Linked DNA regions of Homo sapiens: region 1 is linked to region 2. A link means that fine-mapping ties the variant in region 2 to the expression of a gene that starts in the linked region. Tissue or cell type: lung. Region 2 holds a variant in brackets; the other region holds the start of a gene. All regions are shown on one strand. Distances are from middle to middle.

Evidence for each region. PIP is the estimated chance that this variant, and not a neighbour inherited with it, causes the effect. A credible set is the group of variants that fine-mapping cannot tell apart.
Region 1: PACRG-AS3 starts here. The variant in region 2 is the best candidate, but not a certain one, in a credible set for the expression of PACRG-AS3 in lung (TOPMed, PIP 0.64).

Annotation. Positions count from the first base shown.
Region 1 is chr6:163,189,440-163,193,832 of GRCh38, forward strand. It overlaps PACRG-AS3 (PACRG antisense RNA 3), which reads right to left and starts at 2,563. Exons shown (of 4, transcript NR_122120.1): 1 at 2,442-2,563; 2 at 1,469-1,543. The region is part of intron 4 of PACRG (parkin coregulated); the gene reads left to right.
Region 2 is chr6:163,229,273-163,233,665 of GRCh38, forward strand. The region is part of intron 4 of PACRG (parkin coregulated); the gene reads left to right. Among named protein-coding and RNA genes, the nearest start is that of PACRG-AS3, 39 kb to the left of the region's middle. The variant A/G (reference allele first, on the strand shown) is at 2,101.

The DNA of each region.
Region 1 (4,393 bases), 40 kb before region 2:
TTACATAACCTATTGGAGAATAATGGAAGGGAACTAGATGCCTTATGCCCAGCTTATTCATTATCTGATACCTTTAAAGGCTGAATGGCATTGCCAATTATTCATTGTGGCAGGGGCTGCCATCAATTTTTAGCTTACAGATTGCTAGTTTCTCCCGTGTTCTCTTCCATGAAACAGCAACATACTCCATTTTGTTCTCTATTTAAAAATTTTACATTGCAGCCCTCCAACAAATTAATTCCATTTAGGTTTCTTCGGGAAGAGATACAAATGAGTTTTGTGAAAGTGTACTTAAATGCAGCCATCCAGCCATCAGCATCAACAGGCAGTCAGCTGTGCCCAGTGCCATGCGCCTGATGCCCGTGACTGACAAGGGCCCGCATTCACTGTCCCGGGCTTATGTGAATGCTGACACACTGGTCACCGCAGGGCATACTGCTTGTTGCTGCTTAGTTCATGCTTGCACGGGCAGACCCCCAGGTGGCCTGTCATTTATTTCTATAAGCTAGGTCTGGTAACACCACAAAAGCAGTAACATTCATTTATATGAAGGAGAAGTACATAATCCAAAAATCAGAAAAATTACTTCTGATAGAAGAAACTAGGTTTCAAATGCGGGTCTTAATAATACAACTGGATTCCGATTGCATTACATTGGTTTTCTCTTCCAAATAATTGGCAAATGAGGACAAACAGCTCATCCCCATCCTAACAGGAAGGTCTGAATCTGAAGCCTTACCATCGGTGACTCATTAGGACCCCATTAAGAGCCAGAAAACTTGCCTAAATATAATACAAATCGAATCTTCAATGAGGACTACACATTTGTAAACTAAATTTGAAGTCCCCAAACATTTACAAGTACATTTGTTCTTCATAAGTACAGTCGTAAAGAAAAGCCCAGTCAGTGACAGTCAACCTTGAGCAACGTTGGAATATGAGGTTTGAAAGTGAAAATAGAGGTCGGCGCACAATCTAGTTAGTGCAGAGTTGCATTAGACACAAGTAGTCAGTGACCCCGATGCACGGAGGAAATTCTGAAGGTTCAACATCTGTCTGAAAATAATCGAAAGGCCCTGCCTAGCAGCACAAGGGACTTTCAAGAATGGGCTTTCCTGTAAATTTTGGATTTCTTTTCTTAGAGAAGGTAAAAATGACCTGCTTTCTACTTTTCTTCTGATTGGACTGCAATGGCCAAAAATATTTATAAGAATAAAAGTTAACAAAAACAGTCTAACCCGTCAGTTCAGAACCCTAGTAAAATTTGTTTTGGAGCCTAGAACTAGAATTGGGCAAAAGTGTAGGGCTCTTTCTCTTATACCAAAAAGCCCACTCAAATGTTCTGTGAGCCCGCTCCAAAGATAAAGTCAGAAACAACTTAACAACTTCGTCTTCTTTCACTGATTACTTCCCTCGTGTTCTGTCTATTGCTGATGATGTCCTGACAAACAGCTCCAAGCACACTCACCCAGTGCCCGTGTGCAGCATGCAGACCACTTGTCACCCAATCCATTTCTGAGGGATGACTGTGTTCCTGAAACAACTGAAATCAGAAATCCCTTATTTAGCATTTATTAGAATACTGAATTTAAAATATTACATATTATCATTTGAAAAACAAAACAAACAAACAAAAAACCTGTTACTTAGATTCAAGTTAAAAGAGGGACTATGTATTCACCCTTAGTCCAGGAGAACAGCTTAAAATATGAGCACCTTTTCCTAAGCCATTCCACTTAAATGGACACTAGACCTCAAAATTGCAAACAATAAATACATAAATAAAAGCAATAATTAAAAAACTAACTTCACCATCATCCCTTCCCGCCACCCCCCAAACCTACTTCCTTCCCAGGCTTCAGATGAAATTTCTATGAATGATCCCACCCAGTCTCATTCCTCAGCTCAGTGTCAAGTTCCAGTGTCCTCTGATCTTCCCTTTCTCTGACCCCCACACCTTTATGGCGAGTGGCCCCCCAACGCCACGAGGCCTTTCCCCTTCACTGCTATGGCCGCTTTCTGCACCACCCTTGGGGGAGGTCACAGCCTCTCTGTGACCTAAGCTCTCTCCTCTCTAAAGAGAAGGCATCCACTTAGGTGGTTTATAGGGTTTCTCCTAGCTCAAGGATCTTGAGTGTATCGTTGAGCTAAGATACACTCACGAGCTGAGACCTCCTGACTCAGGCACTGTGGCTGCACTCCACCAGGTGACTTATCTGTGGACCACACTCCACGTGGCCATCTGTGCCTATGCTCTTCCTCCACCCATCCACCAAAATGCCATCTTCTCCACTCCCACTCAGAGCCATGACGTCCCTCTGCCCCCAGGTTGTCCAGGATCCTCTCATCTTCCATTTCCAGCCACCTTTTTTCTCTAAACCCTGTAACACTTCATAGGAGTCCCTCCCAATGAAAGCCACACCCCGCCTGGTGTCTCACACCCCAAAGCAGACTGTAAGCTTCCTGAAGACTGTCCTGCTCCTCAATGTCCCATCCCCTCCCGAACTGACCAGCGGTGCTATCTACGGGGAAGCACCGGGGCAGTTGTTGTTGAATTGATTTCAGTTAATTCAGTTTTTAACTGAATCACACAAAGGATGTCACAAGCTAGCTTTTATAACTAAAGAAAGCACAGTTGTGCAGCTGCCTCCAGAGTCTCTGGGGGTTAGAGGGAATGAAATAGGGAAAGTCCCCAGAAGCCAGCTGACTGCTGCTCAAACCAGGTGCAGGTTGGGAGAAAATCTGTAGTGAATGAAGGAAAATGAAATGCACAGTGGAAAAGAATACCAACATTCTTGCAAAGGAACCTTAAAGTATTATTTTTGCAAAGAATGCAAGGATTATTTCAGTTCCCTTGTTGACTGTTTTGTATGGTCTTCCTACAGATACTTTCAGAAAAAGATCTATTGTTTGTTTTTCTCTGTGCTGACACAGTATCCATTGTTTAGAACTGTAATCATAGCACACATAGTTGAAAATGTGGGCTCGGGGACAAGCTGTATTTTCCCCTCTGGTTCTTTAGACAGTGAATACTGTGTTCTTTATCTCTTATCACAGCTCTTTTGTCAAACATTTAATGATTTTTTCCCCCAGACAAATTTGTAGTTTGTTATCAACCATAAAAATGTCTATTGCCTTATTTTTAAACATTTAAACTTTGGTAAGTGTGTCTCAAGATGAGCATGAATTAAGGTGTTTATTTCATTTTAAATACTTTTTTTTATCATAGCGTACAAAGCTAGAGTTCTCTGACATGGATGGCTTATGTGGATCTCTATTTAGACTTGATGAGAGAACATTTTATTTTTGTACTGTGTGTATTTGCAGGGAAGATGGTTAGGCTGACTGGCTCCCAGGTTGGGTGTGTTGGGAGCATCTGTCAAGGGTTGGACAGGTGCAGACATCTGTGACGTCCTGCAGTAGGCAGCCATCACTCGATTTCCTGCTTAAAAAGATCTGACACACTTCTTCACTCCTTGGATCTCCATTTTTTCCAAATGCCCGATACTTCTTACCATTCTACAACCCTTAAACCGGATCCCAAAGTCTGTGAGAGATAAAAGCCTTTTTTAAACCCAATAAACAGTCACTCTTTGTTGTTCCTGGTTTTAAAATGACAATTTATTGCTTGATACAGACATTTGAAGCCTATAATTCAAATGAATATTTATAAAAATAAATTTCAAGCACACTGGCATGTAACTGCAGGGTAATTTTTAAATATTCATTTTTAAGGTGGTGATAGAGTCTAGAAAAATTTTAATGTGCCACGTTATATTTTATAAATATCCAACTATAGAAATATGCCTTGTGTGCTAATCATTTCCATAAGGCTTCACTTAGATTGAGAGAGTGAAAATGGGTGTCAGTCTTTCAAATATCCAGAGGAAAAACTTTCATTTTGTTTTAAATTTGTTTTTGAGGGCTGAATTTAAACTTAAGACAATGTATGAAGAGTTAAGGTCAGAGTTGGTACTTTCACCACTATTCCATTTGTATTGCTTTAAATTCTCTGATTAAGTGTGGAAAACTATCAACAAGGCGATTGTTCCCAGGGGCTGCCCGGCCAGAAATACCGAGACTGACCATTTTTAAGAACCCAGTGCTATGTGCGGAACAGGGCGGCATGGTGGCCTCCTGAGAACTGGGAGGGAAACACTAAATGAAGACGTGAACACATGGGATTTCTTTCTTTCTTTATTTTTATTAAATAAAAAATATTTTTATTTTGTTATATTGAACTCGACAAATTTTCCTCAGAGATAATTTTTGTTTCAATATTCAAAGTTAGAAATTGTACCAGCCCGTCATAGTTTGAAAGTATTCCTAAAAGTAATTCAAATAAAAATGTATTTTAAATGTAGTACACATTTTAAACATATTGGAGAAAACA
Region 2 (4,393 bases):
CAGGAGTTAGAGGCTGCAGTGAGCAATAATCGTGCCACAGCACTCCAGCCTGGGTGACAGAGTGAGACCTCTGCCTTCTGCCTCTAAAAAAGACAAAACCACCACCACCACCACAACAAAAAATCCAGTATTTGTGATCCCTTTCAAAGCACTGATTCTTCTGCTTCTCAGAGCACTCAGATTGCATCTGATCTTTGCTTGCCAGAATCATCATTTTATGGTTTAGCAAGGAGTTGTCTGCAGGCTTTGCTCCAGTAATGGTTCCAAAGACATTCAGCCACAGCTTGAATAACCTGCACCTGAGCACAAATGTGGCATTCGTAGTCAAGCACCATCGTTCCCCTTCAGTTAGTTAGTCTCGTGACTTTTTTAAGTAGTAATTCCACACCTGTCAAATGCTGTTGGAAGAGACCCTTGAATAGTTCTAGGAGAACCCTCCTCTGGGAAGAAATTTGGGACAGAAGAATTTTTCTTAAGAAGGAAGAAAAGATGGATGAGGAAAGCGCTGACTTCCTCTCATGAGGACCAACAGGCTCCACAATTCCTTTAGCGGCAGTTGTCAGCAAGATGCCCAGAACTGTCTCCAGGCGACAGCAGAGGTCAATTTCAGGTCCACAGAGTCCCACTAACCTCCTATAATTTAGAACCTAATTCAATTGTAACCTGATGGTGAAATTATTCAACAGTTTGCTTCTGGGCATTGAAATAAATAATAAAAAACAGCAAATTTAATACTGCCATTGTTGACATTCTCTACAGTGGCATCAGAAACGCCTCAAAGTCCTATTTACTTCCAAGTGGCCATCTTCATAGTACATTGTCCTTTGTGAAAGCTCTTTGCAAAGAGAATGTACGTCTATATATGTAACATTTGCACCATGCATTACAGTTTTTAAAGAGCTTAGCAAATATGAATCTTCTTTACTACACAGCACTCCTTTAAGATAAAGCATTCAATAACCAATTTTTAATCTCTTCATTGTAGCACAGGTAACTGTGTCCTTATGTTAGGAAATTATGCCCCTTAGAATACCAGTTATTCCAATTTATCAGCCTAAAATGTATATGGAGTACTTACTGTAAGTCTACATGCATAGAATTTTTTAGTGTAATAAAATATTCACTATTTAATGGACAAAACATCCGAAAGAGATCCTACTTTCTCAGAATTAGACTTCCCTTTCCTCCTCCTATTTTAAGTTCCAGGGAGAAAATAAACTAGTTATCTGGAAAGCTTATACTTAGTGGAGTTTTATAGTTTCGACTTTTGAATAGACATTAAATTTCATGCCATCTAGAATGGAAAAACATATATAACTAGACTCATTCCACGGCCTTTAAGACTTATTTGACGTGTCCAAATGTGTCCAACTATGTGTCTATATGTCTGTTTATTGCTGATGGAAACAGCAACAGTAATTCACCTTCAAAATCCCTAAAACGTGGTTGAATAAACAAATGAAGAACGCAGGATGGTGTGTAATGCCGAACTGCTGTAGGTGCAGAGTTAGGGAGGGAAAAACCCGGAAGGTTATCAGAGCCTCCAACATTCAGAAAAGACTTCCTGGAGGAGAGAGGCCTTCAATTAGGCCTCGAAGGACAGTATTTGGAGAGAGAGGAGGAGGTAGGTAAGGTGTCCCTGCCAGTAATTACAGCCTCGTGAAAGAAGCCTGCGGGACAGAAATGAATATGGTATTGAGATGGCAGAGGAGAGAGGTCAAGGGTGCCACAATCTTCAGGCACAACTAAGAAGATCCCTGCAAAGGCAACGGCTCCTCTGGGCCAGCAGAGAAAGTGGAGACCCCAAACAGGGGCTCTCAAGATAGGATGGGGCTGCGGCTGGGAGCGGCACCACCTTTGGGAGGCTGGCAAGGTGGGCAGGCCCACGGGGGAGCCGTGGCTTGCTGGCTGGGGTTTCTCCTGCCAGCAGCACTGGCGTCCTCCAAAATTGCTTCCTGCGGCTTTTCTATTTCTCTTAACTTCATCCACTGTCTTTTCTTATGTCCTGTGACCCACTCACTGCCATGCCACTGAAAATGCTGTTAGAACAAGAAAACAGTAGTCTGTGTCATGTTAATCACATCCTGCTCGAACATGGCC[A/G]GAGTTCCCTGCCCATACCCTTTATAAAGCAGTGGACAGTCCCCAGATGGGCTTGCTGGAAGTCTGCACCGGCGCTGCATGCAGGAGAGCCCCGGGCTGCTCTGACCACAGTGACATGCCGGGTTGTCACACCCTGCACGGATGCAGACAATTCCATACAGATGGATCAGCAACTTTGCAGGTCTTCACAACTATGAGCCCAGATCCGCTGAGCCAGGATGCCTCAGCAAAAGGTGACTTCACATAGGGTGGCTTGAAAAGGCAAGCAATCCTGGCTGACTGCATGCCTTCCCCAGGACCAGCACCCACCAGGTGACTCCTTTTACCCTCAACAAACTCCATCTGCCAGTCAGAGCCCCTTATCCATGAGCTTGCATAGTTTCAGAATCACTCTCAACAAGCAGAGATCCATTTGCCTCTCTGAGGTGGGACCATACAGGTGCAAGAGCCTCTCCAGACCACTGGCTGCAGGTTGGCCATGATAAACAGCCTCACCCAAGAATGCTGAGCACGCAGTTACTGTAGGTAAACAAGTCCCGGCTTCACTCTCAGCTGGAGCTGGCACTACGTTGGTATTTATGTAATGCTGCATTGGCAGATATTTCATCTGCAGTATATGTTGAAATGGACAGATAATTATTTAGAACAAATAAAATAAGCTACTTCTGAAGATGACTTGAAGTGGGCACTGACTTGCTGGGACTCTCAGGCCAGCCTCTACCACCCAAGGCAGCTCTCTACAGAACACAAAGGTCCAGCCTAGAAGGGAGTGGCTGAGGTGAGTGCCTCAGGACAAGCCAACACAGTGATGTTCATTCCAGGAATATTTATGATGAAGAGAACCCAGGAGAGCTGAAGATTAGCGTCACACTCTTATAATAGAGAAGAGTTCACCTGCACCAGGTGCCGTGTCCCGCTGGGGCCTGGCTACTCCAGAGGCTCCTCCGCTGCTGCAATGTGCCCGAGCCCCAACCTGCAAGTCCTCCTGGTAGAGTAGCTCTTAGCTCCAGCCTGCGTGTCAGACCAACGCCCACACTTTGTCCACTTCTTACTTTGTTTAGTAAGAAGGGAAGGGAAAAGGAAGAAAAAGAGGAAAGGAGGAACAAAGGAAGAGGAGAAGGAAGAAGGCAGTGCAGTAAGGGAAGGGAAAGGTGGGAAGGTGTGGAAATAAGAAGCAGAGATGAGAAGGGGCAGAGGAAGGTGGCTCTGTGGTCCTGGCCTTGTTCATGGCAAAACACACTTATACTTTGAGGGTGTTCCGCTTCCCTAAGGCACACCGGGGAAGGTCAACAGGTTCCTGTGGACCAGCGAGAAGAGGAGCCCTGTTCAGGAACAGCAGGCAATAGGAAGAGACAAAAGTGATTGATTCCCTGAGGTGCCAGAGCAGGAAGAACAGTCCAGGCATGGCCTGAGAGCAGAGCAAGGTAAAGAGCACGCCTCACCTACCCCCCAGCTCACGCTCCCAGGAGGAGGCCCTGGCCCTGCACAGCCAGCCCCTCCACCCCTCCTCCAGGAGCCTCCACCCCCGAAACCAGCCCTCAGCCCTCTCCCAACTCTGCTCCTCCAGCTGAAATACTGCCCCTCACACCAGGGCCGCATCCCTCTGGGACTACAGCTGGAGTGGCCCTGCCAGTGTAGCAAAGGGCATCTCTGGGGAGGAGATGGTCTCAGCAACTTCAAACACATTTTCTGTTAAGTTTTCTCTTGTATTGTGATGTTACAGAACACGCTCAGCAGGAATTTGTCCCCCAAGAAGTATTCTTTGCTGCAATCCATCTTCAATTCACAATGGGAATAACCTGCTCACTATCCTTTGTATTTTTCTCACCTACTTTCATGTTTTCTACATCTCTGTTAGGAGATTTAAATTATTTAGGGACAAAGCTGAAGGTGTGTGAATGGATGGATGAAGAGATGGCTGAACTGATTGATGAACAAAAAGTTCACCTGCCAGTAAAAACAGAGGAATGGAGTAGAATGCAGGAGGCCGGAGGCTGCAGGGGCATTTTACAGTTGACCTAGATGGTAATTTGGAGAGAGAGGGAGAGAAATGACACCAGCCTTGAACTTGAGAGATGCCATTTTCTAAATTACCCTGTGTGGCTAAATGACTTTTGCATGCTAGCCCAAAGAAATAACTGCCATGCATTTCACTGTGTGAGAAAACATATTATGAGTTCAAGAAAATAAGAGGAAACATTTTAACATCAAGATGGGAAGGGATAAAGACAGTCCAAGAGGCCGTGGAGGGGGCAGGATACAGCTGTCCACATGAGAAATGGCAGTGACTTCT